2 linked regions of the Homo sapiens genome follow. The protein of the gene in region 1 interacts with the protein of each later gene in a biochemical or structural test. Each region holds a gene or a part of one and is shown on either strand. Other genes may lie near its edges.

The links.
Region 2: of the proteins of PTPN12 (region 1) and TEK, one has a biochemical effect on the other in vitro, tested with the Homo sapiens proteins (one large-scale study listed by IntAct).

What each region holds. Positions count from the first base shown.
Region 1 is NC_000007.14:77,543,564-77,547,390, forward strand, and holds part of PTPN12 (tyrosine-protein phosphatase non-receptor type 12), read left to right. Parts: intron 1-3,827. UniProt on the Homo sapiens protein: Dephosphorylates a range of proteins, and thereby regulates cellular signaling cascades. Dephosphorylates cellular tyrosine kinases, such as ERBB2 and PTK2B/PYK2, and thereby regulates signaling via ERBB2 and PTK2B/PYK2.
Region 2 is NC_000009.12:27,171,613-27,175,439, forward strand, and holds part of TEK (angiopoietin-1 receptor isoform 1 precursor), read left to right. Parts: intron 1-1,003; coding exon 1,004-1,135; intron 1,136-1,609; coding exon 1,610-1,750; intron 1,751-3,827. UniProt on the Homo sapiens protein: Tyrosine-protein kinase that acts as a cell-surface receptor for ANGPT1, ANGPT2 and ANGPT4 and regulates angiogenesis, endothelial cell survival, proliferation, migration, adhesion and cell spreading, reorganization of the actin cytoskeleton, but also maintenance of vascular quiescence.

The sequences.
Region 1 (3,827 bases):
AAGTCTATGATTCACTAGTTTTTTATTACATTGATGAAGTTATGCAACAATAACCATAATCAATTTTAGGACATTTTCTTCACTTTCTGTACCCATTAGCAGTCACTCCCCGCCTTCCCATAAGCCCCAGGCAACCACAAATCTACCTTCTGTTTCCATAGATTTAAGTATTCTGGACATTTTATATAAATGGAATCATACAATATGTGGTGTTTTGTGACTGACTCCACCTAACATGATGATTTCAAGTTTCATCCATGTTATAGTATTGATCCGTAGTACTTTTGGCCTTTTTATGGCTGAATAATATTCTATTGTATAGATACCACATTTTGTTTATCCATTCATCGTGTTGATGGGTATTTGAATTGTTTCCACTTTTTGGCTAATGTGAATAATGCAGCTATGAACATTTGTGTACAAGTTTCTGTGTGGACACATTTTCAGGTCTCTTGGGTATATATCTAAGTGTGGAATTGCTCAGTCACGTGGTAACACTATGTTTAACATTTTGCGGAACTGCCAGACTGTTATCCAAAGCTGCTGCACATATTACATTCCAATCAGGAATATATGAGGGTTCCAGTTCCTCTACATCTTCACCGATACTTGTTGCTGTCTTTTTGATTATAGGCATCCTACTGGGTGTGAAGTGGTATCTTCTTGTGGTTAGCTTGTAAGATTTTGTGTGTCTTAATTTGTCTTTCAAAGCTAGAGTGATAGGAAATATTTTCCAGTCCTTGCATTTGAGCTAATCTTAGTGCTTACCCAGTGCCACTGGTTTAGTTATGGTTTTCTTATCCATCCTTTGATGAGTATTCACCTAAACATATTTACATCAACTAACTTCAGAAGTGGAAGTGAACTTTTAAGTAACTCTCCAGACATGGTTCACTGAGACAGTAAACTAAAAATTTACTTTAAGCATTCTCAAGAATGTTTTACTTTATTTACTTTCAAAATATATTAACTTTTTTCCATCAATATTTGATATTTAACTTGGAAAAAGGATTTTTAAAGGATGAAACTGAAAGTAAGACATTAACATTTAGGTGGCTGTAGGTTTTTTGTTCATATGTTAAATACTTCTGTGTTTCTGTAGCACTGAGTTCATTAGATTCATAAATATTTACATTTCTGTCTTCCCCAGACTGAACGCCTCCCAGGCTAGAGACTGGGACTTAATTATCCCTGTATCCCCATTGCTTAATATAGTGCTTGGCATTTAATAGGCACTAATGTCCATTGCATGTGCAGACATTGTAGACAAACTTAATGCTGTAAGACAGATTTATTCTTCAGGTGAATTCTTCAGTGGTCCAAGGGTTTGTCTTCTAGACGATCATGAGAACTGCTTCTTCCCCTCCTACACAGATGTGCTCACATAACTCGTTGTATTTTCAGTATCCACTGAAAAAGAAAATACAAGATAAGAGCTACATTGAATTCAAATATTTTAAATAAATATGATTTTATTAGCTGCAGTTTCTTAAGGTAACTTCTGTATTTGTGCATCCCACACCCAATGGATCATACTTTGTTGACATTGTCTTAGAGTATTAATAAAATGTCTTTTAAACTTTTGGCTTTGGACTTAATAAAATCAAGATATCATGTCATCGGTATCTCTTCAAAAATAGTGAATTTGTGGGTATTTAGAGAGTGATTACAAGTGATATCTGTTGTTCTCTACTTGCCTCTAGTTTCTTTCCTCATCCAGTCCATTCAACACATCATACTCACTTTCAAGTGGCAGCATCTGTAGGCTAATGGAAACCATACTGGTTGTACAATCAGGAGATGTGGGCTGCACTGGAAGCATGGTTTAATTTTTATTATTAAAAATATAAGTTAAAAAAACTCATTGCTCCCTTTGATGACCATTACAATTATTGGAAATTTTAAATGTGTATTTTGAAAGTCAATTCAAAACATATGATCCAAGTGCTGCTCCTTTTTCAAACTGTAATTATGTCTGTCTCTCTTTCCAGAGAGATTTGATTCCCTGATTTTTCCCTTCTCAGCTCCCTCCAATTTTAAATATATATATATAGTTTTTTTTAATAATTAAAAAAAAATACTTCACCTGGAAGTTTTCATCCAATTTTGTAACTTTGGTCCTAGTTGAGAATCACAGGCCTATAGGATAAAGTCTGTACTTCTTAGCCTGGCATTCCAGAACCTTCTTAACATAATGTCACAGTACCTTTCCAGTGTTAAACTTCTATACTCTGGTATGTATCCTCTCTTCTTTTTGAAGGAAGCTATTCCTGGTCCTTGAGCATACCTACTAAATGAATGAAATCTTGCTTATCTGTGGTTGTACTGTTGAACATACTTTTTCCCTCAGAAAGCTTCCCTTTTATTTTATTTTATTTTATTTTTTTGAGACAAAGTCTTGCTTTGTTGCCAGGCTGGAGTGCAGTGGCACCATCTCAGCTCACTGCAACCTCCGCCTCCTGGGTTCAAGCAATTCTGCTGCCTCGGTCTCCTGAGTAGCTGGGATTACGGGCGCCCGTGACCACACACAGCTACTTTTTTTATTTTTAGTAGAGATGGGGTTTCACCATGTTGGCCAGGATGGTCTCCCCTTTTATTTTATAAACCAGTACTTGGAAGATGAGAAAGCTAAAAATTTAAAATGACTTCACCATGTTCACCAAAAACTCAGAAGCAAAAATGTGATTAATTCTCACCTTCTAGAATAAATATTTTAGCACAGTTAATCTTAAAGCACTTTTTCTCCTTTGTAAAGTTTGATCTTTAATATCACAAGAAAAAAAGCCTTTCATTAGATTTGAGTTGAAAACTTGATAAGGTAAATCAGGTGATATGCAATTTCTAAACCACTAGTCTTTTCCAAATATGAGTTGAACTCCTCTTCCAGCATTTTATATTTCCTGTAGTATTTAAGTTTCTTTAGATTCATGCAGTCAAACCTTGACAATTATCTCCTTCCTTCTGAAATCACACAAAAATCTTGTTTGCATTTGTACAGTATTGTAGGGTCTGTAGCTGGCCTATGGCAGATATAAGAAGCAAACAGTAGTTGCTCCCTAAAAGTTTTTTTTGGAGAAAGTGGAGTGTGGACTGTATTAGTCCATTTTCACACTGCTATGAAGAACTGCCCGAGACTGGGTAATTTATAAAGGAAAGAGGTTTAATTGACTCACAGTTCAGCATGGCTGGGGAGGCCTCAGGAAACTTACGATTGTGGTGGAAGGTGAAGGGGAAGCAAGGCACCTTCTTCACAAGGTGGCAGGAAGGAGAATGAACATGGGAGGAACTACCAAACATTTGTAAAACCATCAGATCTTGTGAGAACTCACTATCAGGAGAATAGCATGGGGGATTATAATTACATAGGGATTATAATTCAAGATGAGATTTGGTGGGGACACAAAGCCTAGTCATATCGTGGACCATGATAATCTCAGAGGCTTTGGGAAGTGTGCTAATATCTACATTTCCTGTAATAACTTTTATATCTAATCGGCATTTAAAAAGCTATTTTAACAACATTTGAGTGACTGTCCTGATAGGCTCTGAAGGAATGCAAAGATTTGTCTCTGTCATCCATCCATGGTCTCTGTCATCCATCCATGGTCTCTATCATTTATCCATTCATACAGAAGGTATTTATGGAGATACCTGAGTGCCCACTATGCCCTAGGTACTGTGTTTTTGAATTGACAGTTGAAAACATGGCAGTACTCTGTTCAGGAAGTTTACTAACTGAACAGACCTGTGAGAAGCAGCGGGACTTTTCCTGGGGGCAGTGGGTGGGCTTCAGGGGAATCTTTGAACCCTTTTAAATTATATATAAT
Region 2 (3,827 bases), on another chromosome or scaffold:
CTTGAGTCGAGGGGAATCTTTCCACGTACCCAAGACCTATTTCCTTCTGGATGACTACTGTGCTTGACTTCTATTAAATGTCAGAGCAGCCTTTTTGTAATATGAATCTTAAAAAATATAATTTATGATGATAGCAAAACTGCAATATTCAGCTTCTAGTAGCTTGCCTCACAGCTACCTTTACATGAAGTTTCTGTGGACTTGGGAGAAGCAAGTGACATCCCCTTTTATTCCACTACTCAGGAGAGTCTGAATGTCAAGGAAGCAATTTGCCTTTATTTCATTTAGCTAGTTTCTCTGGAGTCTGATATAACACCATGTACTAGGTGTACTCAGAGGGTAAATGGGGTACATCTTCTAGGAAGGTCAGACATACCTATACATGTTGATATATAGTTGTTTGAGATAGGAAAACCAAAGTGTTTTTCCTAATCTCTGCTCTCACTGAACACAACACTTCTGACACCAATGTGCACAGATTACTACGCCACTTCTAGAATTTCTCATTCAGTAGGTCGTGGTTGGGTGGGATCTGGGGTTTGCATTTCTAACAGATTCCCAGATGATGGGGATGCTACTGGTCAGAGACCACACTTTGAAAACCACAGCTCCAGCCTGTAACCATACCTGCAGCTCCCTGGACATGCCATGCTGTCTTCCCATGCCTTGTCTTTGCCTGGAAGACACTCTCCAGCCTTATCTTCTTTGCTACTTAGTTGGTCCTGCAGATTCAGCTTGCATACCATATCCTCTGGGAAGCCTTCCTTTATGCCCTCTTCTATCCACCAGACAGAGTTAGGTACTCCTTGTCTTTGTTTCTGTCGCGATTTCCTGTTTACATGTCTGTCTCCCATATTAGATGATGAGCTTTTAGAGAGCAGAGCCTGTATTTTATCTTTATTCACCATTGTCCACTGAATGACTGACACACAGTAGGTGCTCAATAAAGATGTGTTGAGCGAATGCGCTCTACTCACCACAGCCTTGTTTTCCTTAACAAAAGGATGTGAAGCCCAGAAGTGGGGACCTGAATGCAACCATCTCTGTACTGCTTGTATGAACAATGGTGTCTGCCATGAAGATACTGGAGAATGCATTTGCCCTCCTGGGTTTATGGGAAGGACGTGTGAGAAGGGTAAGTAAAGAGACTTGATAAGTAAGCTGTGGATTTAAAAAGCCATCGTTGCTGGATCTAGAATTTTAGATCTCGACACAGATGGGAATGGACGCTAAATGGCCTCTGTTAGGTCAGATGGTACCTGTGTGTGAATTAGAAAAAGGTGCCTTTTCCTAAAGGTTCTTTAATGCCAACCACTGGAAAGTTATAATAAATATACAGATCCGTGATGTTTACAGTGTGAATGCTGCCCCCTAGGTTTGTGCACTGCACAAACCTGCATGATTGTGAGTGATGTCCCTGATGTCTGCTCTGTGGGGCAGTTTCATTATCAGTAAAATGGGCCATAAGGGTATGTTCATCCTACCATGCCACAGCTGAGATTTGACTGTTTCCCATATTCACTAGACTAGGAGAAATGAATCTAAAGAATTATGTATTTCAAGGGGTTGCATATTTGACTCTGAATCATCTTTTCTTTTCCTCCCAAAGCTTGTGAACTGCACACGTTTGGCAGAACTTGTAAAGAAAGGTGCAGTGGACAAGAGGGATGCAAGTCTTATGTGTTCTGTCTCCCTGACCCCTATGGGTGTTCCTGTGCCACAGGCTGGAAGGGTCTGCAGTGCAATGAAGGTATGCACCAATCACACCCTTGGACAGAGGATGTTCTAGCAGGTATATAAAGGAGATCCAGTTTGCTGTCAATCACAACATCGGATATACCTGGACTGCTTAGCTACCCACTACTGGACAACAGGATTTTGAATCATGGATGTTTACATCCAATGTTAATTATACTTTCACAGTAAAAATCTAGACCGCATAGAAAGTACTTCTCATAACTATCATCTGGGGATCTTTACTAAAGCACGGATTCTGATTTGGTAGGCATGGACTGGGGCCCGAGGTTCTGCATTTCTAACAGGCTCCCAAGTAGTTCCGATGTTACTGGTTTTCAGACCATGCTTTGAGTAGGAAGACCATAGAAGACTTGTTTTTTTTTTTTGGTTTTTTTTTTTTTTTTTTTTCAGTGAATCATAAAATCACAGCTTTAGCCAGGCATGGTAGCACATGCCTGTTGTCCCAGTTATTCAGGAGGCTGAGGCAGGAGGATCCCTTGAGCCCAGGAGTTTGAAGCTGCAGTGAGCTATGATTGCACCACTACACTCCAGCCTGGGCAACAGAGTGAGACCTCGTTTAAAAAAAAAAAAATCAAAATCAGAGCTTTTATGTCAGATCCAGACAGGATTTGGGGCTCAAAAATTGAAGAAGTTAAAATCTTACCTGCCGTGGACCTTATGCAAGTAGTACTAACATCATCTACTCAGAGTCCCTCTGCCCTTTGTAAAATAAGCTTTCCCATTTGACCAGGCTCTGTGGAGTGCATCTGACATCCACTTTTCAGTATGCATTTCACATCTACTGTTGCATAGTAGCTCAACATGAACCTGCAGACAAATGTGACAGAACCTCCCTAATGTATATTAATACTGTGAATTAGCCAGAGCTCAAAGGCTTTTCAGTGTTTATCTCACAAAGTCAGCTTTTCCCATATCCGGCACTAAAGGTAGCTACGATGGGGTCCCAGCAACTTGATAACAATGCTCCAGGGCAGAGCAGTTCAGTAGAAATATAAGCCATCCACATATAGAATTTAAAATTTTCTAGTGTCCACATTAAAAAAGTGAGGAGAAATAGGTGAAATAATTTTGATCTATTAACCCAATATGTTAAAAACATTATCAGTTCAACATGTAATCAATAGAAAAAAGTATTAATGAGATATTTTACATTCCCTTTTTCATAGTAAGTCTTTGAAATTTCAGTTTGGACTAGCTATATTTTAAGAGTTCCATAGCCACACGTGGCTAACTGTACTGGACAGCATAGCTCCAGGGGCTTGGAGGAGGAGGACAAAGAGGAGAGTTACACAAAAGTAAGCTTCAGCCACCTGCAATACCTCATTCAGTTCCCTCTAAATGCTATGTCTGCCCCCCGGAACATGCAGTGAGCCACAGCAGTGGAGAAATCCCATCTGGCCTCTGAAGTGTGTATGTTAAGGTAAAAGGTGACTCCAGGCAGGGGGCAGATCCCTTGTATTTTAAAAAAAATTAAAATGTTACGCAAACTATGAACACTTTGCTAGGACCCAGGAAGCGGTGCATGCCAGCAGTCTCTAGAACATAAACTTCATCAGCTTTGTAGTGAATGTGTCTCTGGGCCCAGGTTTTTTTGTTTTTTTTTTAATTCTTTTTATTATTATTATTATTATTATACTGTAAGTTTTAGGGTACATGTGCACAATGTGCAGGTTAGTTACATATGTATACATGTGCCATGCTGGTGTGCTGCACCCATCAACTCGTCATTTAGCATTAGGTATATCTCCTAATGCTATCCCTCCCCCCTCCCCCCACCCCACAACAGTCCCCAGAGTGTGATGTTCCCCTTCCTGTGTTCATGTGTTCTCACTGTTCAATTCCCATCTATGAGTGAGAACATACGGTGTTTGGTTTTTTGTCCTTGTGATAGTTTACTGAGAATGATGATTTCCAATTTCATCCATGTCCCTACAAAGGACATGAACTCATCATTTTTTATGGCTGCATAGTATTCCATGGTGTATATGTGCCACATTTTCTTAATCCAGTCTATCATTGTTGGACATTTGGGTTGGTTCCAAGTCTTTGCTATTGTGAATAGTGCCACA